Linked DNA regions of Homo sapiens: all the other regions are linked to region 2. The links come from fine-mapping of genetic effects on gene expression. A gene starts in region 2. Each other region holds a variant in brackets. All regions are shown on one strand. Distances are from middle to middle.

What was found.
Region 1: its variant is fine-mapped to the expression of VDR in whole blood (TOPMed, PIP above 0.99).
Region 3: its variant is fine-mapped to the expression of VDR in adrenal gland (GTEx, PIP above 0.99).
Region 4: its variant is fine-mapped to the expression of VDR in blood mononuclear cells (TOPMed, PIP above 0.99).

The regions. Positions count from the first base shown.
Region 1 is chr12:47,936,202-47,942,037 of GRCh38, forward strand. No RefSeq gene overlaps it. Among named protein-coding and RNA genes, the nearest start is that of TMEM106C, 24 kb to the right of the region's middle. The variant C/A (reference allele first, on the strand shown) is at 2,657.
Region 2 is chr12:47,901,642-47,907,477 of GRCh38, forward strand. It overlaps VDR (vitamin D receptor), which reads right to left and starts at 3,353. Exons shown (of 10, transcript NM_000376.3): 1 at 3,314-3,353. RefSeq lists an enhancer at 1,763-1,962 and a silencer at 3,346-3,475.
Region 3 is chr12:47,857,194-47,863,029 of GRCh38, forward strand. It overlaps VDR (vitamin D receptor), which reads right to left. Exons shown (of 10, transcript NM_000376.3): 5 at 311-495; 6 at 1-56. Among named protein-coding and RNA genes, the nearest start is that of LINC02354, 31 kb to the left of the region's middle. The variant T/A (reference allele first, on the strand shown) is at 3,377.
Region 4 is chr12:47,837,282-47,843,117 of GRCh38, forward strand. VDR (vitamin D receptor) reads right to left here. Exons shown (of 10, transcript NM_000376.3): 10 at 4,256-5,836. LINC02354 (long intergenic non-protein coding RNA 2354) reads left to right here. Exons shown (of 3, transcript XR_007063292.1): 3 at 537-2,827. Among named protein-coding and RNA genes, the nearest start is that of LINC02354, 11 kb to the left of the region's middle. The variant G/T (reference allele first, on the strand shown) is at 2,784.

The DNA of each region.
Region 1 (5,836 bases), 35 kb after region 2:
ATATTTGGTGCTTTATATTTGGGATTGTGTTGCTTTTTTTTTTTTTCTGTAACTGGCAGACCAGTTACGTACAATTTAGGCTAATAGTAAATTTCATTGCATTTTCTGAGCACGCATTAATAGAGAATGAAACAACAACAAGAAGAGAAGCAACAATGGCCTTTTCTAGCATGACCTCCTTTTTAGGGTCAGTCACATGACAGGTAGCTGCAGAAAACCAGCCTAGTATGAAAGATCAGTCCTAGATAATCTAGGACAATCATGGAGTTGCTTACAAATATACATTAGATGTAATAATATGTGGAGAGATCTACTTAATAATAATGTGTGGAGAGGTATCTGTATATCTGCAAGGATTTAGGCCACCCTATTAAAAGTGCACCTGGCAAGCACAAGTGCAGGACTTTGGCACTTTTCTAGTTAACTTGCTAAATATACGTGGCCAAACCAGATCATTCAGGCCAGTGGTGATTTTTGAACCTAAATATTCTGGTTTGGCTGTTTTCATTTGTAAAATTAACCTGATACTTGCCAAATCACTGCTTCATTCATGCTCTATGAAGAGAAAAGTAATGCTCATGTGAGTGTGAACACACATGTGATTTAATATGTGTATTTACATGTAACTCAGCTTTGTTGAAATGGTATGTACTCAGACATTCATCCCACAAATGGTGGGAAATCCAGGTATCTAATCCTAGTATGTCTAGGAATGTTTGAGGTGGGAATGGAGTTGGGCTTATGTTTCTTTCAGTCACTTCTGGCTCTAAGTTCCTGCTTCTATGGAATTTTATCTCTTTTTTTAATGTCTTGCCTCTTGTGGACATTTCCACCTCCGCCTCCATTGGTTCAAACATGTAATTCAGCCCATATTTCTTAATTTCTCTAAGATGTTACCACAAAGGCCAGGCGGTGTCTACTGTATGTGGACTACTGTAGAGCTGAAAGTAACTGAGGGGCAGTTCTTTGCTGCATAACAGAATCAGTCGTAATGTTGATCATTAGAATCTTTGTCCTTAAAAGTCTTTCAGTTCTTTCCTTTCCCCATATTCCCACCATGGGGAATTGTCTTCTACTTGGACTCAAGCCTCCTACCATGTTGTGGCTCCTTCCTCGTCCAATCTCCTTCTAAACTAACCAACACTCACCCACAAATTCCTATGTTGGTTATGTCTGTCTCAGTCAAAGCCCACTCCATGCAAGGACTGCCTTCCACAACCCAAGTGGCCCATCATGGTGTTCGTTCAACAAAGTGCTTGAGGAAGAATTTTCCCTGTCAGTGACAGAGGCCCCTTTCCTAACACACCAACACCTTGTGTTACAGACAGCAGTCCTTGTGCTAGTGTGTACATGTGAATGTGTGTGCAAGTATGGGTGAGAGCATATGTATGTACAAGTATGTGTATGTGTGACTGTGTGTGTGCACATGCAGGGACAGCCCTAAGAATTAGATCAAATGTTATTGGGAAAAGGCACAAAGTAGATGTTTAGACTCACTCGTTAGGTGTTGGATCTAGAGCTAGGAAATCCCACATGTCAGTCTTATGAGGGCCCCAAGGAGGGGATTCCCTATACCCAGACTGCATCTGCTTGAAAATTAATTAATTAATTGTGAAATGACATAGAGATGATGCAAAGGAAAATAAAGAGATAGAGCCATGGGGAACTGGAAAGACAGAAAAAGAATCCATTGAACAGCAAGTTCCAAGGTCATCTTGATTCTCAGAGACCTGGGCTACAGTGATTTGCCATACATGCCACTGGGAGGGACAAAGTTAGGTAGGAGTTTCTACTTCTTGGGCATGAAAGACCGTGGGGAGGGGGAGCAAGATGAGCTATATAGCCTCCCCATCCCCAGAGATCTCTGAGGCCCAACATAGCCCACCTGTAAAAATGGAGCCAGGTCCTGGCCTTCCTGGAGGGAGAAGGAGGGCAAGGATGAGCTCTAAAAGCGAAACCTAGTTTAAGAGATTTCCAAGCAAAGGAACATGAGCCCAGCTGCATCCCCAGAGTTAGAAGGAATGGCTTCTTGAGGGTTGGGGGAACAGGATGTGGTTAGGATTTCTTATTTATTTATTTATTTATTTAGAGACAGATTCTTGCTCTGTCACCCAGGCAGGAGTGGAGTGGCACAATTATGACTCACTGCAGTCTCAACCAGCTGGGCTCAAGAAATCCTCCTGCCTTACCCTTCCAAATAACTGGGACTACAGGCAGCACTCCCCAACATGCCTGGCTATTTTTTTTTTTATGTTTTGTTGAGACAGGGTCTCCTTCCATTGCCCAGGCTGGTCTCAAACTCCTGGGATTAAATGATTCTCCTGCCTCGGCCTCTCAAAATGCTGGGATTACAAGTGCAAGCCACTGTACCTGCTGGGGTTAGCATTTCACCAGCTCCTTCTCTCACACTGCTTATGTTCTCCAGGGTTTAGAGCCTCCAGAGGAGTGAGGGCTGTAGACAATGTGTTCAATGTCACACATGTCACAGGGAGACGCAGGCAAGACCAGGACGCCAGTGGACGAGTGCTAATGGCCTTCCCTATTGTGTGTCCAGGCAGCCCCACTGGGCCCTGGCATAAAGAGGCCCCTGAAGTCTGTGCTCTGCCCTTGTTGCAGGGCAGCACTGCCAAGCCCAGGAGAATCCTCTCTCTACTTA[C/A]CTCCTCCAGCCCCACTAGATTCTGACCTGGCTTGAACAGCCATGCCCCTCCAACTGGGATGAGTTCTTCAAGGAACGAGAAATGGAGACTGCATCCCAGCTCCATCCCTGACTTCCTGTGTAACCTTTGCTAAGTTGCAGAATCACCTGAGCACCCATTTCCTTGTTTAGGGAATGGCAGTAATAATGACTACTTTGTGGGGTTGTTTTAGGATGAAATGGAGGGTACCCGACTTTGGTCTGGGGGACAGTGGAACTGGTCTGGCTTCCTCCAGGGCCACATCATGTTGTCCAGTGCTCAAGCACTGAGCACTTGAGGGCAGGGACAAGTCTCACTTATCTCTGTGCCCTCAGTACCTGGCACAGTGCCCAGCTCATTCTATGGTATCCAATAAGCATGTGTTGAGCTAAAGTTGGCAAGTCAGAAGGTCATGGAGAAGGAAGCATCTGACAGGTTCTGTCTGTCACCTTCAAAGGGCAAGGATCTCAGTCCCCATCCCCACCCCAGGACCCACCTCCCCCAAGCCCCACCCAGCTCTCAGTGTCTCTCAGCACTTCCTCTTCGCCTCGTTTCTTTCTTGGGCCAAGGATCACCCTGGGAGTGTCCCATACGGGTGCGCTGTGATGACGTGCCCTGCTCTTGCCTAAGATTAGGTTCCATAACTGCTCCACCTGAACCCAGGGCTCTGCACACTCCCTGGGTCCCATTACTCCATCAGGCCTGGACCCCCTCCCACCACACCCTCCTCACTCACCTAGTCCAGATAAAATATAGGATACCCAATTGAATTTGAATGTCAGATGTACCTATACTAAAAGAAACCATTGTTTATCTGAAATTCAAATTTAACTGGGCATCTTGTAGTTTTATTTGTGAAGTCTGGAAAGCCTACCTAGGCAGTGCCTTTCTACCAACCATGGTCTTCCCTTCCTCCATACCTGTCTTCCAGTCCCACCAGAACCTAAATGACCTTAGCAACTGGGACCATTCATTCTTTTATTCACTGACTCATCCGACACATTTTTATTGCACATCTACCAAGTGCCAAGCCGTCTGCTAAGCATTGGGGTTACAATGATGGAAATATCAGACATAGCCCCTGCCCTGTAGAGTTTACATTCTGGAGTGAACAGCAAAGGTGAAGGTGAAGAAACAAATAAATAAAATTATTACAAAGTACAATCCATGCTATTATGAAAAGAAATCAAATAGAGGACTGAAATAGAAATTAGAAGAGGAGGGCTGGTTTGGACAGGGCAGTGAGGAAAACTTCTCTGCAGAGATGACACTCAGGTGGATGTGAAGAATGAAAATGGGGCCAGCTCAGTGTGTGTGTGTGTGTGTGTGTGCGCACGCATGCACATGCTGGGAGAGGATGGGATTCTAGGCCCTATGGTAGGAAAAGAAGTTTGACTAGTGGGAGCTGAAAGACTCAAGCACCTGGCCAAGGATAAGGGGTATGAGATAAGGCTGGGAAAATGGGAAAAGTGTGGAATTACTCAGGGCCTCACAGGCTATGGTAACATTCCAAACACACACACACATGCATGTGCACATATGCACACACACAGCACACACGCATGGGCACACTGAAAGCTTCTGGAGAAAAGATATCATGAACCGAATGCTATTAAAAGACAGTTCTGGTTGTTTGTTTGTTTGTTTGAGACAGGGTCTTACTCTGTCACCCAGGCTGGAGTGCAGTGGTGCAGTCTCAGCTCACTGCAGCCTGGACCTCCCAGGCTTAAGTGATCCACCCACCTCAGCCTCCCGAGTAGCTGAGATGACAGGTGCATGCCACCACACCTGGCTGATTTTTTTTTTTTTAATAGATGAGGTCAAGCTATGTTACCCAGGCTGGTCTCAAAGTCCTGGCCTCAAGTGATCCTCCCAAAAAGACAATTCTTCATACTTCCTGGAGATTGAAATGGAGGAGGTGAGGGTTGGCAGCAGGCAGGCCAGTCATGAGGCCACTGTGGAGTCCAGGTAAGAGAGGATTTCATGGATGCATTAAGTCGAAATGTCCGCGAGGCCTCCAACAGAAGTCTCCAAGGGAACTGCTTCTGGGGGTCAGAACTCAGAGGAAGAATGGGGTTTGCCACCATACAGATGGTGTCTAAACCACAGAAACACAGCAGAGGGTACGGCAGGACCAAGTCCACGTGGCACTAGCTTTCCAGTCACTTTGGTGGCTTAGAAAAACCAGGGCCATGGTGGCCATTGAGAAGAATGGTGGCAAAGCAAGTGCATTTTTTGTGGGATCTGGTGGACTGGACGATATATTGGATGTGAAAGGTAAGGCAGCACCAAGGACTGCAGTCTTCAGCAACTAGAAAGATGAAGGTGAGGCAGGCTAGATTGGGGGTGACAGGGGGGAATCAAGGGTTGTCATCTGGATGCATTAAGTCGAAATGTCCGCGAGGCCTCCAACAGAAGTGTTCAAGGGAACTGCTTCTGGGGGTCAGAACTCAGAGGAAGAATGGGGTTTGCCACCATACAGATGGTGTCTAAACCACAGAAACACAGCAGAGGGGATGGCAGGACCAAGTCCACGTGGCACTAGCTTTCCAGTCACTTTGAAGAGAAACCTGCCAAGAGGCCTGAGAAGGAATCACAGACAAGGCAAGAAGGAATCACAGACAAGGCAAGAAGGAACCAGAAGGACAACGCCGCATGGGGAAGCAGAAGGGAGAAGAGAGGGCCTCCGGAGGGTAGTCAGCTGAGGCCGGGCTGCTGGGAGAGGACATGGGAGGCACAGAAGCTCTCCTCAGGCCGAGTTGCATATGAACAGCTGCAGTGAAGCAGTGGCTGGGGCTGGGGGAGGAAGTGGAGGCAGCAAGGGGCCCTGCTCTTGTGAGGAGGCGGCTGTGGAAGGGTCAGCGCGATGTACTGGCAAAGACGGATCCTGGAGAGGGATACTTTTAGAGATGAGAGGTAGAGCATGCTGATGGGAATGGTCCAGGAGAAAGCAGGGTGGGGTTAGGGGTCAGGGGAAGATATGAAAGACAGCTGAGGCACCCTCTCCCTCAGGTGCCCCCGTCTTCCTCCACAAAGGCGAGGGAGCCGCGGCTGTGGGACCTGGACCCAGGCTTGGATGGAAGGCAGAGGCCCAGCCCCCGCTCGGGTGGAGAAAGCCGCGGAGGGGAGGACCTGCCTTTGCTCTGGAAATAGAAAACCAA
Region 2 (5,836 bases):
CAGCCAGACTTTCTGTGGGATAGTGTGGTCCCCAGAGGTCTGGGAAGCTGGATGAGCAAAATGTGGAGGCTGTAGATATGGAGGAAGAGGGAAGAGGAAACGTGAGGCCCAGTCTTGGCTCCACTATGAACCCCAATTTCCCCAGGGGAAGCTGAAGAGGAGTTGGCAGACCTTCCTGTCCCTGTCTGAGGTTGGGGTGGGGCAGGAAAACCAAAGGTGAGGCCAGTCACAAGTCAAGGGTGAAGGGAAGTCACACGAGTGGTGGGCTGGGTCCCAGGACAGGGTGGCCGGGAGCAGTGCCGCCCCAGGGAAAAGACGAGAATTGGCTGATAACACCAGGGAGCAGGCTAGGGTGTCGGGGGCTGTCCTCAGAATTAAGCTACCCCTGTTTTCCCTTGAGCATTAAGCCTCCCCCAACCTTATCATCCCCTCATCACTGCTGTGACCTCTGCTGAGTTTGGAGTGATGATCACTAGGGTGATTAATATTCCATTTTTCCCTGGAAAGTTTGGGTTTATGTCCATTGTCCTGGTATAACCATGCATGGCATCCCCTTTCACTCTCAGAAGTATCCCAGTTTGCAAGATACATTACACAGGCACTCTTTCTAGCATATCTAGGAGGGCACTGACACAGGAAAAGGTTAGGGACAAATCAGAGGGAAGCAAAATGACAAGCAAGGCCTTGGTGGCCCAGAGTGGCAGCCAGGCTGGCTTCAGCCCAGCTGGATCCTCTCAGAACTGGACAATAGTGGAGGGAGAGCCTGAGAACTGCTGCCCACCCTGGGGCTCAAACTGTCTTGGAGTCAGGGGCCTGGTCTGGTGGGTTCTGCTTCCTGCTATCCCTCAGAGGGCCTGGAGTCATGCTGGGCACACAAGAGGCTCTTAATCAAATCTGGTCAATTCCTTATTTCCCTCTACCTGCATCCAAAACAGAATTGCAGCAGGGACAAATGGAAGCTGGAGCCCTGTAATTCTTTATTCAGCAACACACCAAATGTCATCTAGGTGGTCCTCCCGTCTCTGGCTCTCTGGCCCCTAGGACCTGACTGCTGCACAGGCAACAGCGAGTTTCTAGCAGAGGTTCCAGATGCCTATTCCAGCCAGGACAGCGGTGCCTCCTTAGGATGTGGGGTAAGGAATGAAACAATGGGAACTCCCTTTCGTGTCTTAGATAACCACCTGATGTAGTAGCCACCTGATGTAGCCCACTCGGTCCCAGGCCTTTCTCCATTCACAGCCTGGGCTTTGGACACCTGCTATCTGTTCTGGGGGTAGAGTGTAGGGGTTCAGGAGGTCCTCTCGGAGCTTCCTCTGGGGCTTAGTTACAAAAGAGATCAGTTTTGAGGTCAAATAGGGGAAGAATACTGAGAAACCATAAACACAAACTATCAGGGCACCCCAAACAGCACCCGACCTTCCATAATGTTTATACAAACAAAGTCTGATGGCCTCTGCCGAAGAGGAGTAAAGGGTTGGGAAGGCTTTCTAACTCTCATTTTTTCCCCTCCTTTCTTACCCCATTTTCTAGTCCCTCCTTTAGCTTGGTAAGGGTCCAAGTCACAGCTGATCAAGACCAGCCAAACCCAAAGCCATGGGACCCAGCCAGAGCATAGACTGTGAATTCCCCAGCTTTTTGCAGTTTGAGTCAGCCCCACAGCTGGATTGGCCTCCCAGGACTCTTCTCAAATAGGTCCAGAGAGGCTGCTGAGTGGGGGCCACGGACTCTGCAGGGAGGGCTACTTCTGTTCAACGATCTCTAGCACCCAAAACAAAAGCCAGGGAGAAATGTGCAGTCTTACTACCTTCTGGTCTGGCTGCATGCCAGCCCTGAGACTGTTTCAGAAAGACTCACAGTTCCCTCCAGCACTTGGACAGGGAAGGGACGGCAGGTCTCTCAACACACAACACTCTTAGTCCATAGAATTGAGGCTCCAATGTTCAGATAACCCATTTCTACCTCAGCAAATCACCCTCACTCCCTAGCCTGAGTTAAAGCCTTCTTTGCCAACACCATGACTTCTCTGGCCCCAGACTTTCCTAATTTCTTTTGCTCACCCCCTTCACTAGCAGAGATGGGCTGCTAATGAGACCACTAGGCAGAAATGGAAGGAAGGGCTGGAAAAGCCTGCAGTGCTGGGATGCACCTCCTTATCCCAGGAGAAAGATGAGATGTAGATTTATCATAAAGCCACTATCCCTTCACGGTCACCTCCTGCTAGAATCATCTCATAGCCATTCCATAAGCACTGCTGTGTTGGGTATCTGAGCCCCTGCCCATGAGGAAGACCACCTTCCAGCAGGGAGCTGGAGCAGAGCTGAACTCTGCCCAGGAGAGCTTCTGCAATGCTCAGAAAATGCCTGCCCAACTGCTTGCCTGGGCTCTGGCCCCTTTGGCTGCAACTGAGCCCAGACAGGAGGCTGACTCACTCACCGCACGCATAGAGGAGGAGGAGGAACAAGAGGAGGAGGAGGAGGAGGAGGAGAAGGAGGAGGAACTGTGAGAAGGGTCTGGGCTTGGAGACCTAAGGCTCCCCCAGCCCAGGCTAGGTCTCAGACTCTGGTCCCTGGGTGAAGAGAAGGAGGGGCAGTTGTACACTGGCCCTGGAGACCACAGGCTGTTCCCTCCTAGATACTTCTGAATCTTCCTCACCACCACCCACAGATCCAGGGCACCTCACTTTTCAAACAGAAACTACTCCTTGAGCCCCTTCCTCATTTAAATGCTTGCCCCTGAGTTCCTCTGAACATCTATTGACAGGCTGTCCTGAAAAAAAATAGGGCCAATTAGGTCTAAACTCATTGGTAGTTCAAAGAAAAGTAAAAAAAAAAAAAAAAAAAAAAAAATTACTTAAAAGACCCAACTCCACCATCACAGGTGACCATACCTGGGCCCTGTAAGACAATAAATAAGGTTACACACCCTCCACTCCAGCAGTTCTGAGCACCATCGACAGCCAATCGCTCCTTTTCTTATTCCTCCACTCCATGCCAAGGCGCCCCGACAGAAGAAGGAAACAAATACTTCTTGTTGCCCAAGTGCTAAGCACTGTGTTAGCGGAGCATTTCTCCTAAGCGCCGAGGATGTCGCTGCTCCCCTCGCCAGCCTGGCACGAACTTCAGCTTTCTCAAACCTCAGTGCCCCTTAGTGTCCCAGCCTCATGGCACGACAGCCCGGACCTCAGTAGCCAAGTTTACCGCTGAGACTTAGACTCTAATGCTCGCAGCCGGGCGCTCAGGCCCCGGTATCCCAGACGCCCCGACCCCGAGTCCCTATCCTGAGACCCCCTTTCCCGCTGCTCCCGGGTTCGCACCTGGTCCGGCCGGCGGGTGGACAAGCTGTTCCGCGCTCCCGGCGCACACGGCTCCGCTGCCGCCTTTTGACAAGCAGAGACAGCCCAGCACCTGGCCCCGCCTCTCGGTCAGGCCCCGCCCCGGCCCCGCCCCGCCCCTCCGCCCCGCCCACAGGTCCAGTCCTCTCTTGCCAGGAGCTCCGTTGGCGCTGCAACCATCTTGACTTGGAATCAACCACCCTATAGGCCACGCTGTAGCCTTAGATACTCTAACTCGTGAAATTTTCATCGACCGTCGTCCATAGGGCAAGGCACGCTTCTGCCCTCTGTGGGACAGAGTTGTCGATGATTATAGGTGCGGATACCCGCTTCAGCCTGTGTTAATCGGGGATGCAGCCCCCCACCCTTCCTGCCGTGGTTCTACCCAGCCTGCTGCGGACGCCTGAGCCAGGTGCGTCACCCCCACCTGGGCTGACCAGGCCAGGACTTCGTCGTCCGCGGGACGCTGGGGGGCGCCTGCCGACTGGCACCGGCGGCTAGCTCCGCACGAATGGGAAATCCCGGGCTCCGCTCGCCAACCTGTTACTGCTGCAGAACGCCAGGAAGCTCAGCCTGATCCCACAGATTAGGGTAAAATATCCCGGGGGGCCGAAGTGGAAACCGGAGTTGCGTCATTGCTCCCACCCGATATCACCTTGGCAGCGACCGCGGCTGACCACGTTCCCGGCCTGTCGCGAATCTCACCCAAGGGAGCTGAGTCTCAGCTTCCCTGGTCCCTGGTCCCGAGTTCCGCCTTCCCCCCCCGCCCCGTGGCATCGGCGTGAGGGGAAAAGATAAAGACTACCTCCTGAGACCTGGAATTGTGGATGGCTGCGGAAAACTCACCACAGGAAATTTTGGCTTAAAGTTATTCTCTGCTTCCCTTGACTGTGTGATAGGCACCGCTCTATCTGCTAGAGGACAGGTGAAAAAGATGGGGTTCCCTCTTCTTAGAACTCACTGTGCAGTGGGAGAATGTATAAATAAATAGTAATTACAACATAATCTTCTGGAATAGAAATGCTCACAAAATCATCCAGCAGTCGATGACCTCCTTTAGCCAGGGAAGATATTGCTATTCGCCTCTTACAGAGGAGGAAACCATGGCTCAGAGGGACAAGGTGAAAGGGTGGGAAATTGAGGCATAGAAAGTTTAAGTGATATGCCCAACATGACTCAGCTAATCAATGAAGGACTAGTGCTAGAGCCCAGCAAATCTGCTGGTGCAATGGTCTCTGAACCATTTCTGAGACAGCTATGCTGGACTACATCATAACCAGCCCCTCACAACTCAATAATAGGGTTAAAAGAAATAGACTGAGATTAAATAGAAGGAAGAACCTTCCAACAGTGAAGTTTGTTAAGCACTGCAACAGTTCATTATGGAGGTATCATGGCAACTTTCTGGGAAGACTTAAACAAAAGACAGAAGAGAGGCATAGCGTTTGATTGAACTTGGGAATGGACCATTTATTCTGAGAAACAGATGAAGTGCCCCTTTAGAGGTCCTGCCAGTCTGATGGATGGATTCTCTACCTGTAATGAAAGTAATAGGAAGGATCCCCTTGCCCAAAGCATCGTGGGAAAGCTAGCGGTGATTCTTGTGGGAAGAAAAGCATAAGAGGAAATTTCCAACCACCAATACCTTGGGACATTCTCTGCAAGTCCCATGAGCCTCTGAAAGAGGTTGAACACTCAGAAGTCACTTTTGTGGTGCTTGACTGGCCTGACATCTTGCAAATAAACCTTATCAAAAGATGGTGGAAGATGCGTACTAAGTATTCCGTAGTAACTGAGAGTTAGTCTTTTTTCACAGCCTTTGTTGGAGGAGAGGTACTTGTAATTCACATGTGTAAACTGCTTTATAATTTAAAAATTCTTTGGAATATCTTACTTGATCTTTATCATAGCCTTTTCAGACATGAAGAGTAAAAAATACCGTTCCATTGTACAACTGATGTGCAGAGTTGTCAAGGTTTCTACAGCTGAGGAGTGTCAGAGCTACTGGACCCAGATCTTCTCTCTGCACATCCCACTGTTTCATGCTGCCTCTAAAAAACAAAAAAAAAATTTCCATGCATGCACTTTTCACAGAGTTGAAGAACTCAGAGGTTCTGCGTTTGGCAGATGGGCAAGATTATAGATGTCATCACGGTCCCCAGCACATGCCGTCATCAGCCCCGTCACCTTGTCTGTAACCATGTTCTTCCCATATTCCCCCAATACCTGAACTGTTCTCTCTCATCCACCTCTCCAGACCCTCTCCTCTTTCAGGTCCTGCCTATTCCATCAGGCTTTTCCAACATCTCCAGGAAAGGAACTGTCAATTCTCTGGTCTTTGTAGCGCATGCATTTTCTATATTGCATGGTTTGGCACCTGCTAATGAACCATCTTGTATTTACATTGAACAAAGATAGATTTTTTTTTGCCTGTTTTATTCTTAGAAGGAAGGTTATTTTGTGAAAGTAGAAAAGCAACATCATATGAGATTCACTTCTCCTGTG
Region 3 (5,836 bases), 44 kb before region 2:
CTGGAGTTGGGCCTGGAAGGATGGCTCCCTCCACCATCATTCACACGAACTGGAGGCTGGAAGGGAAAGATGGGGTCTCAGACCCACATTTTGGGGTTGCCTTCCTACCTTGGCCCTGATCTCTGATAGGAATGGCTTTGAGGAAGGTCTACAGGAAGGCGAAGCCTCCCAGTGCCAGGGGCAGAGCAGCCTCCGTCCCTACCCCAGTTCTGTTCAGGATGTCCCCTGCCCTCTGTCCCTACTCCCTGGGCCCTGGCTCCACTAGTGCTTCTCCTCTGGACCGGCTCATCCTCCCAGCAGGCAGACATACCCGGAACTGGCAGAAGTCGGAGTAGGTGGGGTCGTAGGTCTTATGGTGGGCGTCCAGCAGTATGGCAATGATGCGCTGCTGCTCCTCAGACAGCTTGGGCCGCAGACTGTCCTTCAAGGCCTCCTCCTCCTTCCGCTTCAGGATCATCTCCCGCTTCCTCTGCACTTCCTCATCTGTCAGAATGACTGTGGGGTGGGAAGGGGAGTCAGGAGGGCTGGCCAGCAGCTCCTCCAGGAAACCTTCCTCCTGCGGTTGGGGGTAAAGGTCCAAGATAGGAGGGGCTTTAACACTCGGGGCTCCCTCGGGGGTCCTCCTGCCACGGAGACTCCCACTCCACTGTGTGAAGAAAAATTGGGTTTGCTATGGTGAAAAGGAAGGCACATGCAAGAAGAAGAAAAAGAGGATTTGAGAGGGGGGATGATCTGGGCTTTAGGGAGTCGGGGTTCTCAAGAACAAGTTGTGGGACCTTGGGCAAACTCTCTGGGCTTTTGTTCTTTTGTTTGTAAAATGAGAGATTTGGACCATGTAAGTTCTTCCAAGGTTCCTTTCTTGTACCTTCCTCCATAAAGTGTGTGTGTGTGTGTCTGTGTGTGTTGACATGCAGGTGGGGGAAGTAATAATACCTGCCTCAAAGGATCAACTGATTTGAGAACTGGATGCATGCCTGGCCCAGAGCAGATGCTCACTAAATGTTAGTTCTCTTCTCTTCCCTACCCTGATGTTCCATGATCCTGAAGAAGATATCAGGGTGAAGAGAGGATGCCAGAGCTCTCATAGCGCTGGAAGTGAGATGTGGAGAGGACTCCTCTATGTGGCTGTCTCCACATCCAGGTTTCCAGACATGGGACTGTGGAATATAGAAAGACTAGACCTCTTTGGTTCTCTGCAAAACCACCCCTCCTCCAGCATGTACAGCCTTGACATTTCTGTCCATGGAAGTTTTCAAGTCCTCTTGAAGGCCCCAAAGGGTGAGGCCTTGCAGCTCTAATCTTAGAAGTTCTCTCCAGCCACTAATCAGGGTGTGGGGCCATAGAGAGCCCCACCACCACCTGCAGGCTTCTGCCTGCCTCCCTGTGCTGGGGCAGCTGTGGGGGTGGAGGGGATGCTGGGAGCAAAGGTGCCTGGCACGGCGGCTGGGCAAACAGACCTCCTGGCTGTGGCTTGCTGAGTGCTGACGGCAGGAGTGGGCACCAGGGCCTTTGGCCTGTAGCTACTTGCTTGGTGCTGCTGCTGCCAGGGCATCTGCCCACAGAACTGGGGAGTTTCACAAGAGCAGAGAAAGGAACCAGAAGCCCAGGGTGGGTGAGTTCCAGGCTTTGAGAAAGGTCCATTGGCCCAGGCCCTCAGGTAGGGGGAGGACGAGAGAAGTTGCTGTGGGGTGAGGAAGAGCCTATGCTGGGAGGGAGTGGACAGCCAATGCCACAGGCATGGCAGGAAAGCGAGCGCTACTGCAAGAGATGGTGCTTCCCTCCACAGGGAGCCTGGGAGTAGACCACACCCAGGTGACTGACTCACCTGCCCAAACAGCTGCCAACTCTCCTCCCACAGTGGGTGTCTGCACAGACCCTACCAGGTCAGGCAGGGTGGGAGAGGAAGGGGCAGGGAGCATCCAGGGAAGGCAATGGGGGTAAGCCCTCGCTTGGGGAGCCCAAGATTAGGTGTCTTGTCTTTCCTGCTCACCTGGGGACCAGAGTTAGGGAGACCTGTTTCTGCCAGCCACACCATGGTGTCTACAGGCACGTAGCTCAGCCTGACTGGACTTTGCTAACTTTCCAGTGATTCTGTGATGCCATTCTCCTGCCCAGATACTTTTCTCGGCCCCTACTGATGACCACGTCCAAACTAAAGTTGGCCTCTTCCTAACTTTCAGACTTCATGTCTTAGTGCTTCTGGACACAGCCTCTGTTCTGGGCATGCTGGCATTGCTGCTGGCCTGGGAACATGACCTGCTCATGCTCGCCCCTGCATTTCCAGTTGTGCTAGGTGCCCGTCCAGCTGGGTTTTCTCTCCCCCAAACCTGTATGAGTTCTACCAGTTCTTCAGTGCCTACATCATAGCCATCTTTTTCCATGAAGCATTTCTTGATTGCCCTGATCTGCATCAAGCCTTGTTTTTTTCTGCTGAGCCTCATTTCCTATGCCTGCTACATATTTAGTCTTTCCCACACACATTGACACCCAATTATCTTCTGCTCTGTAAGACTCATGGTTAGCACAGTTTTCAATTCATTACCTATAGACGGAGCCCAAGAAGTTCAAGGTCTCTTTCTCTAGATTACAAGTTACTTAAGGGCAGGGTCCATGTCTTACAATTCTTTCTTTTCTCTCCCTTCCTTTCCCTTCCTTCCTTCCTTCCTTCCTTCTTTCCTTCCTTCCTTCCTTCCTTCCTTCCTTCCTTCCTTCCTTCCTTCCTTCTTTCTTTTTCTTTCTTTCTTTCTTTCTTTCTTTCTTTCTTTCTTTCTTTCTTTCTTTCTTTCTTTCACAGACTCTCGCTCTATTATCCAGGCTGGAGTGCAGTGGCACCACCTCGGCTCACTGCAACCTCCACCTCCCGGGTTCTAAGCGATTCTCCTGCCTCAGGCTACAGAGTACCTGGGCTTATAGGCACATGCCACCATGCCTGGCCAATTTTTTTGTATTTTTAGTAGAGATGGGGTTTCACCATGTTGGCCAGGCTGGTCTCAAACTCCTGACCTCAGGTGATCTGCCCGCCTTGGCCTCCCAAAGTGCTGGGATTACAGGCGTGAGCTACCATGCCCGGCCTTTGTCTTACAATTCTTATATTTCCCCCATAAAGGCTAGACCGGAGGGGCTACCTGGCCGTGGTGTCTGCTCAATAGTCTGACACCAAATATCAAATGCATCCACACAGATTACACCAACTGTGTGCAAATCATTTTCCTGGTTCAGGAAAGGCTAGTGAGTACTCTAGTGCTGCTTGTCTCCTGCAATGTAGTGAATGGCACCTGGCACACCAGAGAGCTGAGAAAGCTGACCTCTTTTATTGAAACAATTGTTATGGAAAGATTTTCAAGACAGAAAACCTTGTAACGGAACACTTTTAACG[T/A]CATATAACCTTTCCCTGATGATTCAGAGGTATCATTCTGAATAATTACTGAACATTGCAGGACAAGGTTACAGCCTCAGAGTTGTCAGAGGCTGTCTGCCCCGCATTGCATGGCTTGGCGTGCTGGGCTTTGGAGTTCTTGGGCTGCTTTTCTTGCTTCCAGTGTCCACCTCCCTGTTAAACTATGCGTTGTCTTCTTATTGGTGTCTGCCTCTGGATGTGTGCCTTTCTCCCCCTTAAGACTTACTTCTGATCTCTTGGGAGCTAGAAGTTCTGGTGATCAAGTTTGATGTAATAAAAAGAAAATATTCGTAATGCTGGATGGCACATAAAGAGTTTTTCTATCTATAAGGCACTATTCTGAGAGCCTTTTGTATATTAACTCATATATTTAGCCCTCATGACAACCCTTTAAGGCAGGTGCTGTTGTTATTCCCATTTAGCAGATGAGGGAGCTGAGGCCCAGAGAGGCTTTCTACCTTTCTCAAAGTCACACAGCTAACAGTGGTGAAACCAGCATTTAGACCTGGGCAGTCTGGTTCTGGAGTGGAAGGTCATAACCACTAGCCTCTACTGTGTCTGATTACATCTGGTTATAAGCGGACTTTGGCTTTCAGCCATGGAGTTTTGACAGGCATTGTGTTCCAATCCATCTGAAGAGTGTGAAAATAAAATTAAGTCACAAAGCTTGTAAATTACCCACTTTAAAGAGACAAAGAAAGTTCAAGTTTAACCCTATAACATGATTCCTCCCAGTCACTTGCATCAAATAGCAACCTCCATCTTCTATGGAGGTAACAGAGGAAGAAATGCTGAGATCTACCAGTTTCACACAGGCCCAATCCATGAGCCTTCTGCAAGGCAACATTGCTTGAGGACTGAATAAGTCTAAAGTCTTTCACATATGCAAATGCACTGTGATTTACGAAATAATTTGTTTAAAGATCTTGTTAATTTCATGGGAAATTTCTTATCATTTTTTCAATGGATTGAACCTAAGATGTCATTACTATCATATAGGAAGACACTATATGATATATGAAGCCATTGACCTAGAATAAGAGTAAACAGGTTCTGAAAGAGTGTTGGGCTGTCTGGTGATCAGGCGTCTAAAGTGCATGAGTTTTGGCATGTGGACTTTGTAAAACCTACATGGCTGCTCAGAAGCTTTTTTTGACTTCATTTTAAGCTCCTTGCTGAGTGTGAAATAATTTTGCGCAAGTTATTCCCATGCAAGACATGTTCTCTCCTTAACGAAGCCAAGATCTGCAACATAAACAATTTGAAAACATTTCAAGATGCCAAGGATGGGCTAAGAACAACCACAGGAAGAGGACATAAAATGTTTCCAAATGAACGGCACAGACATGATCAGGTTTGGGAGAATCTTACTGATCTATAGACCTGTGGAAGATATACAGAGAGAAAGAAGCATAATGAGGAGCTAATATTCATTGATTCCACACATTTATTGAGCACCTACTATGTGCCAGGTACTTTACTAACACCAGGGAGAAAAGACATACATCTGTAAAAACATCAAACAAGTTACCACAATGTGTGGTTCTGTGCAGGACAGGTAATAGTATAAGCAAAAAGCAAGAACTCAGTTATAAAATTTCTTGGGTTCCCAGGGTATAAAGTCAACTAAGAATGGAAAAGAGAGAAAATGAGTCTTTGGTGGGACCAAGCTCTCTTCAATCCATCTCTTAGAGCATGTGAAAGTGCCTGGAAATGCACAATGGAGTGAGCTCCGACCCACTGGGGCCACGAGAGGCTGCCTCGGGTGTGGCCCACAAGCCTGCCCTTTGGAAGCAGAAAGACCTAGATTAGAATGAATGCTGATACCATCATCTTATTAGCTGAGAGCCATGATATTTTAATTCCTCTGAGCTTCCTCAGCTATTGAAAAAATAAAAGTATTTACGTATTTAGGGAGTGTTGTGAGAATTTCAGAAGAAAATGCATGTGCTTGATGTGCTATCTGACACACAGTAGTTGGTCAATACACAGGGTTTCTGTCCTCATCCTTTCCCTTCCTGTGCCTCTTCTATGGAAGGCCCACCTCCTTGCTCGGACAGCAGGAGCCTGGGCTTTTAGCTTTCTTCCTGTGGTTTTACAAATATTGAGACACTCAATTGTCTCTGGGATGCTATGCCTTGGGGACAAAACCCAGCCCAGATAAGAAATGTGCAGCTCTCCCAGGGTTCTGAGGCCGGGGGACTTCACACTGGTGAGGCCTCCTGAAGCTGGACTAACCTGAGGCTGGGAATGTCTCTTCCTGGACAGTCTTCCCTTCAGGAAAGTAAAAAGCATCAGGACGTTTCTATTTTAACTGGATCCCCGCTCCACCAGCCCATCTAGAACTGAGTACTGCTCCCTGCACTGGGATGAGGAGGGTGGTGTGGCGAGAAGCTACCTTGGGCATACAGCAGGATGGGGACACAGGACTCCACAGGA
Region 4 (5,836 bases), 64 kb before region 2:
AATGCTTGAGAAACTCTGGTTTAGAGGCAAGCCACAGAGCTGCACGTTCAGAGAACTGCACGTACCCAGACACGGTGGTCGGTTAAGTTTCAATGTCTGGAACAAAGACAAATGACACTGAAGAGATCATGGTGGGGTTTATACCTCATCAGAGAAGCAGGGTTCCAACAAACATGGGGATAAATGAATCGATCAAACCCGATTCTTGAAACTTGTCTTGATTCCCTTTTCTCTGGGCATAAGCCACCCCTTGCCAGAGAATACTGACATTAATTATAGGTCAGTAAATACGCATGTAGTGAAGTCCAGGTGTTGGTGATTGTTGAAGGATTGACATTGACAAATAAAGAACATGACTGAAAGAAGTTGGGGACAGTAGTCACTAGAGTTCCATGCATTTCAGATTTATATTCCTATCTTCCCACCTCTTTCCCACACTTTTCTCCCCAGGCAGCTTTCGGCTGGGGCCAATTTGGTTTATTAAGTGGCACACCTGCCCCCTGGTGGCCAGGTGGTACAATGACACCTTCTCTCAGTTCTGGTAGATATCATGGAGCAGGAGTCCCTAGCACCAAGAAGCTGAGATCCGGAAGAGGCGCCCCAAAAAATCAGCCTGGAGTGAATCTAGAGGGCCCATCAGGGATCGGAGGTCGGAATGTGGGAGCAATGTCACCTCCTTGATAAAAACTTATTTGGCCATCTCAGCAACCCAATAGTGATGTTGGCCAACACATGATTGATAACTACGTGCCAGGTACTGTTATAAATGCTTTACACAGATTATATCACAACAACAGCAAATCTATGAGGTAGGTACTATTATTGTTACCATTCTGTGAAGAAACTGAGGCTCAAAAACATTAAGTAACTTGCCCAGGGTCATACAAATAGCAAATGGCAGAGCCAGGCCTGGGAGACAGCAGTTTACTTGTTAACTGTTACTTTTAACTTGTTAACACTTTGCAGCTTCCACTTGGCATGCCTAGTACTCATCTGTCTGTAGGGCTGTCTTCTCCCACTGCACAGTGCTTTTCTTGGGGGTGGCGACTGTCTTGTTCATCGCCATATCCCCAGCACTGAGCTCGGTGGTGTGGCTGGTTAGAAACACTGGAAGGACTACATAACTTGGCTGGACCTCAGAGGGAACCTGCAGCCTCGCTCACTGTCAGCACGGACTATGCTCAGAGGCCCGGGGCACAAGACCCTGGGAGGCCCTTGGGTGAGGTGTGAGAGGGTCAGATACTCCCTGTTGCCTGGGAGGAGAAGCCAGAGAGCAGATCCCTAACCCCATGTCGCTGGCATGAGGAGAGGTAAGCACCACCAGATGCCCTCAGTAGCAGAGACTCAGAGCCTTGCTGAATCTCACTCATATCATGGAGATAGAGAAAGGGTGGAAGGGGGATGTGATTGGGGCTTTGGGGGCGGGGGGCCAGGCAAGTGGCTCAAAGCTATCCCTGTAGGGCAGTAGCACCACCTCGTGGTGAAACTCAAGATGATTTAGGAAAAATAACCCAGCTAATCCATAACTGAGGGGAGGCTGGGAACCCCCTCCTTTGGAGTCAGCACTCTCCTTGGATAGAGCCACAGGAGAGGGCCTGGAACTCTTCCAGCGTCTCCCCAAGCCAGAGCAGCTCACTCCAGAAGTGCTCACCAGGTTGTATAGAATGTGAAGAAAACACCCCTTATGGACATGTCCTATGGGCCACAGGCTGAAAAGAGCCGCCTAGCTGAGGTCATGTCAATGAAATCACATGCTCTTCAGGGAACAGCCTGCGTCCAATGACTACCTGATGCAGGAATATAGAAGTGTCTCCCTCACTTCATCTTGGGGCAATCCAAAGGGCCATCCCAGCTTCAGAGATCCCCACACGGGTTGATTGAGACCTTCACTGAGACTGCTTTGCAGCCCAACTTCTCCCACTGCTAATTCTACTTCTTTCCCTTCCACCAGGGCTGATAATCCTGAGACTGCTCCCTAACAAGCTCCCTGCACTTCAACCTGCATTTCAGAGTCTACGTCCCTGGAACCCAACTTGCAACACCATCCCGTATATCATATATCACATGCGTGCATACAGAGATTCGGAGCAGCTGTCTGGAGCAGCGAGCTCTCAGATTCCCCCTGCCAGCCACAGGCTCCACACCCTGCTGTGCTTCTGGGTCTTGAGGAGCACAGACTCCCCATCAGCCTCACGGGCTCCCTGCCCACAATGAGGACTAGTTGCCTATAGGATGTCAGCATGATGAGCCATCTCCTTGGCCATGCTGGAGGTGTCAGACAGCATCCATCCTTCTTGTCATCTGCAGGGACCATGGGGCAGGCAGACCGACCTGCACTGCACAGGCAGCCTGCAAGGAGCCTGGTAGAAGCTGGGGAAATTGAAGGGCTGTGGTCACTCCTGGCAGGCCCTGTTTGCTTGCTCCAGGGCTAAAGGAATCAATACTCCTAGCACACCAGTGAGCTATTTATACCACATGATGCTTTGAGCCTATCAACCCCATGGTCTGTGCAGTGTTTTTGCTTTATGTCTCTTTTAAGAAGCAGACTCATTCGAACTACCCCAGGTGTGGCATAGCCCATTGTAAGGGGAGGATGTTCCCTATAGCACTTCCATATGATGTCAAGTTAGTGGCCATTCTGCCCTACAGATCAACAGAAGCACATGACGCCAGCATCCTCATGGAGTCATTCACAATTAGTACCAGATAAGAATGCATTGTGTAGACCAGTGCTGCCCCATAGACTATTCTGCGATGATGAAAATGTCACGCTTGTAATCCCA[G/T]CACTTTGGGAGGCTGAGGCGGGCAGATAACTTGAGGTCAGGAGTTCAAGACCAGCCTGGACAACATGGTGAAACCCTGTCTCTACTAAAAATACAAAACTTAGCCAGGCATGGTGTCAGGTGCCTGTAATCCCAGCTACTCATGAGGCTGAGGCAGGAGAATGGTTTGAAACTGGGAGGCAGAGGTTGCAGTGAGCCGAGATTGTGCCACTGCACTCCAGCCTGGGTGACAGAGCAAGACTCTGTCTCAAAAAAAAAAAAGAAGAAAAAAGAAAGAAAAAAGAAAGAAAGAAGAAAGAAAAAAGGAAGAAAATGTTGTGTATTTGCACTGTCTCTTACGGTAGCCCTGAGGTTATCAAATACTGGAACTGTGGCTTGTGCGGTTGACAAGCTAGATGTTTACCTTTATTTCATTTAAATACTCACATGTAGCTAGTGGCTACTGGATTGAACAGTGTAGGCATAGAACCAAAGCTTGGAATATGAAAACTTGAAAACACTTGATCCTAATTATGCAACCTTCCTGGGGTATATTCCTCTTGGTTTACCTGGAAAAGCGCATTATAACACAGCCTTGGAAATTTTGTGTTCTTCTAGGTCAGCTATAAAAATGCTACATAAGATCCTTCTAACAGTGTATCAGAACTCCATTCTCCACATTTCTCCAGCCAGAGACATGCCCATTTATGCAGCTGTTGATTTCCTTTCTCTAAGTCCCTTCATGTTTCACAAAATAACCCTCAAGTTCTAACCCCAATTCCCCTAAGTCCATCTCATCCCACTGAAACACATTTTAGCCTTTGGTTTGAAATATTTTCAGATGTTTCTGAAAAATTAGAGTGAATCACATCCCCAGGCCAACTTATCCTCAATCAATACATTAGCTGGCATGATTTCCTTATTTTCAGATCACAATGCTGTGTTCTTGTTTACTGTGCCTAGCAATGCTACCCTTCATCATAAACCCCACTTCCTTGGGAAGCAGAATGGAGTGCATCGGCATAAGTTGGGCCCCTTAGGAGTCCTGTTTCTGCACAGCAGTCATTTGTAATCCTCCAGGTCACTGGCACAGCCGCCATCTCTAATGGCAGACACAGTTTTGCCAGTAGCTGTTTGGTTTTCATTTTTGAGGGTCTCACGTAGGTGTCATATATTGACTGCACACTTCCTGGGAGTAGAGCACAGTTTGGTCCAGCACCTCTAATTTTCCTGGCTCAGGGCCTGCTTTAGGAATGGGAACCTCTTTTATCTCCTCTCTAGGAGAGAGCTAGCAAGACCATCAGTCGTCTGTCAGGTCCCCCAACTCAATAGGAAGCAGGACAATGTAGCAGTTAATTTGTGGCTTCTGAACCTAGCTGCTGAAGGTTCAAATCCCATCCCTTGCTAGTGTGGCATTGCTCAAGCTATCCTTTCTGTCAAATGGGGGTAATAATGATTCATCTCCCATAAGGTCCTTATAAGGATAAGGCAAATTGGTTTGCATAAAGCATTTATTTACAGCAGTACTTGCAACAAAGTAAGTGCTATATAAGTATGAGCCATTTTTATTACCATAAGCAAAGCTTTCTACATTGGTTGACTTGACAAACTTCTGGCAAACTTTTTTTCTCTTTGGAAATCATTCAGCAGGCACTGTTTACATCCTTTCGCTGCCATATCTCTAGCTTTCACTAAATCTGCCACACATTCCTGCCTTCTCTGTTGACCTCGCTTGGATTCTCCTACATGCTTCCAGTTAGCCAGCCAGAGGATTTTCCTGTCTCTGGGAATCTTGTGGAAAATCTTGCATTTTGGGGCACCTTCTCCTTCAGTTATAATGATATACCTTAAAAGTTTTACATTTACAAATGTCTATTTCACACTCTCATTCTAAAGTAGAATCGATGATGACCTTTTCTCCCCGTTCAGCCCCATAAAAACTCATTTTCCCCTCTTTTCTTTTCCTCCCAGCTCCTAGACTTCCTTTGGAGGAGTGGCCTAGGTGGTGGGGCCCAGGGCTGAGTAACTGATATTTCCAGGAGTTCCCCGAAGAAGGCAGGGCCAGAGGGAGAGCTGGGAAGGTGGTGACATTACAAAGACAAATGCATGTTATAGATGAGGCAACAGCATTATCCAAGGCTGAGGTGGAGAGCCCAGCAGGCCAGGGCCACATCGTGGTGGGGTAGGGTCTGATTCACATTGAGGCAGAGGTGAGTCTCCTTCCTTCTCCTTCTGATGGGTTGGTGGAGTTACAAGCCAGGGAAGGAAGGAAAGGGTCCCAGATCCAGACTTGCTCTTTCTGAAATCCAGGGCTTCCCCCAGGGACTGGGTCAGCCACCTGGGGAATGAGAGTGGGGGTCTGAGCTCAAACATGGTGTAGTGAAAAGGACACCGGACCATGACTCCAAAATCTGGTCCTGTCCTGGTCCACTTCTAAGACGGAGTTTCGCTCTTGTTGTCCAGGTTGGAGAGTAACGGCACGATCTCAGCTCACTGCAACCTCCACCTCCTGGGTTCAATTCTTCTGCCTCAGCCTCCTGAGTAGCTGGGATTACAGGCTTGCGCCACCATGCCCGGCTATTTTTTTTTTTTTTTTTTTTGTATTTTTAATAGAGACAGGGTTTCTCCATGTTGGTCAGGTTGGTCTCGAACTCCCGACCTCAGGTGATCCACCTACCTCGACCTCCCAAACTGCTGGGATTACAGGCGTGAGCCACCGCGCCGGGCCTGTCCTGGCCCACTTCTAGCTAGTTATATATGCTTGGGTGAGTCACGCCCTCCTCTGTCAGTTTTCCTGAATGAGGGGATTGACTCGTTTAGCAACTTACAAGTGTTTTCTCCCACTGAAGAGCAAGCTGGACCAATACGTTCTGCAGCTAAAATCAAACAAGGGTCTCTCCCTAGACCCTTGTAAAATAACAACAGCAATAATAATTAATGTACAGAAGTTTCACAATGTAAGTTCTCCCCCCATAAATATCTCCAAATCAGTGGTACCTGCTACCCTGTATATTAGACTATAATACAAATGGAGTCTGAGTCTGAAAACAACTCATATCTAATAAATTTAAGAT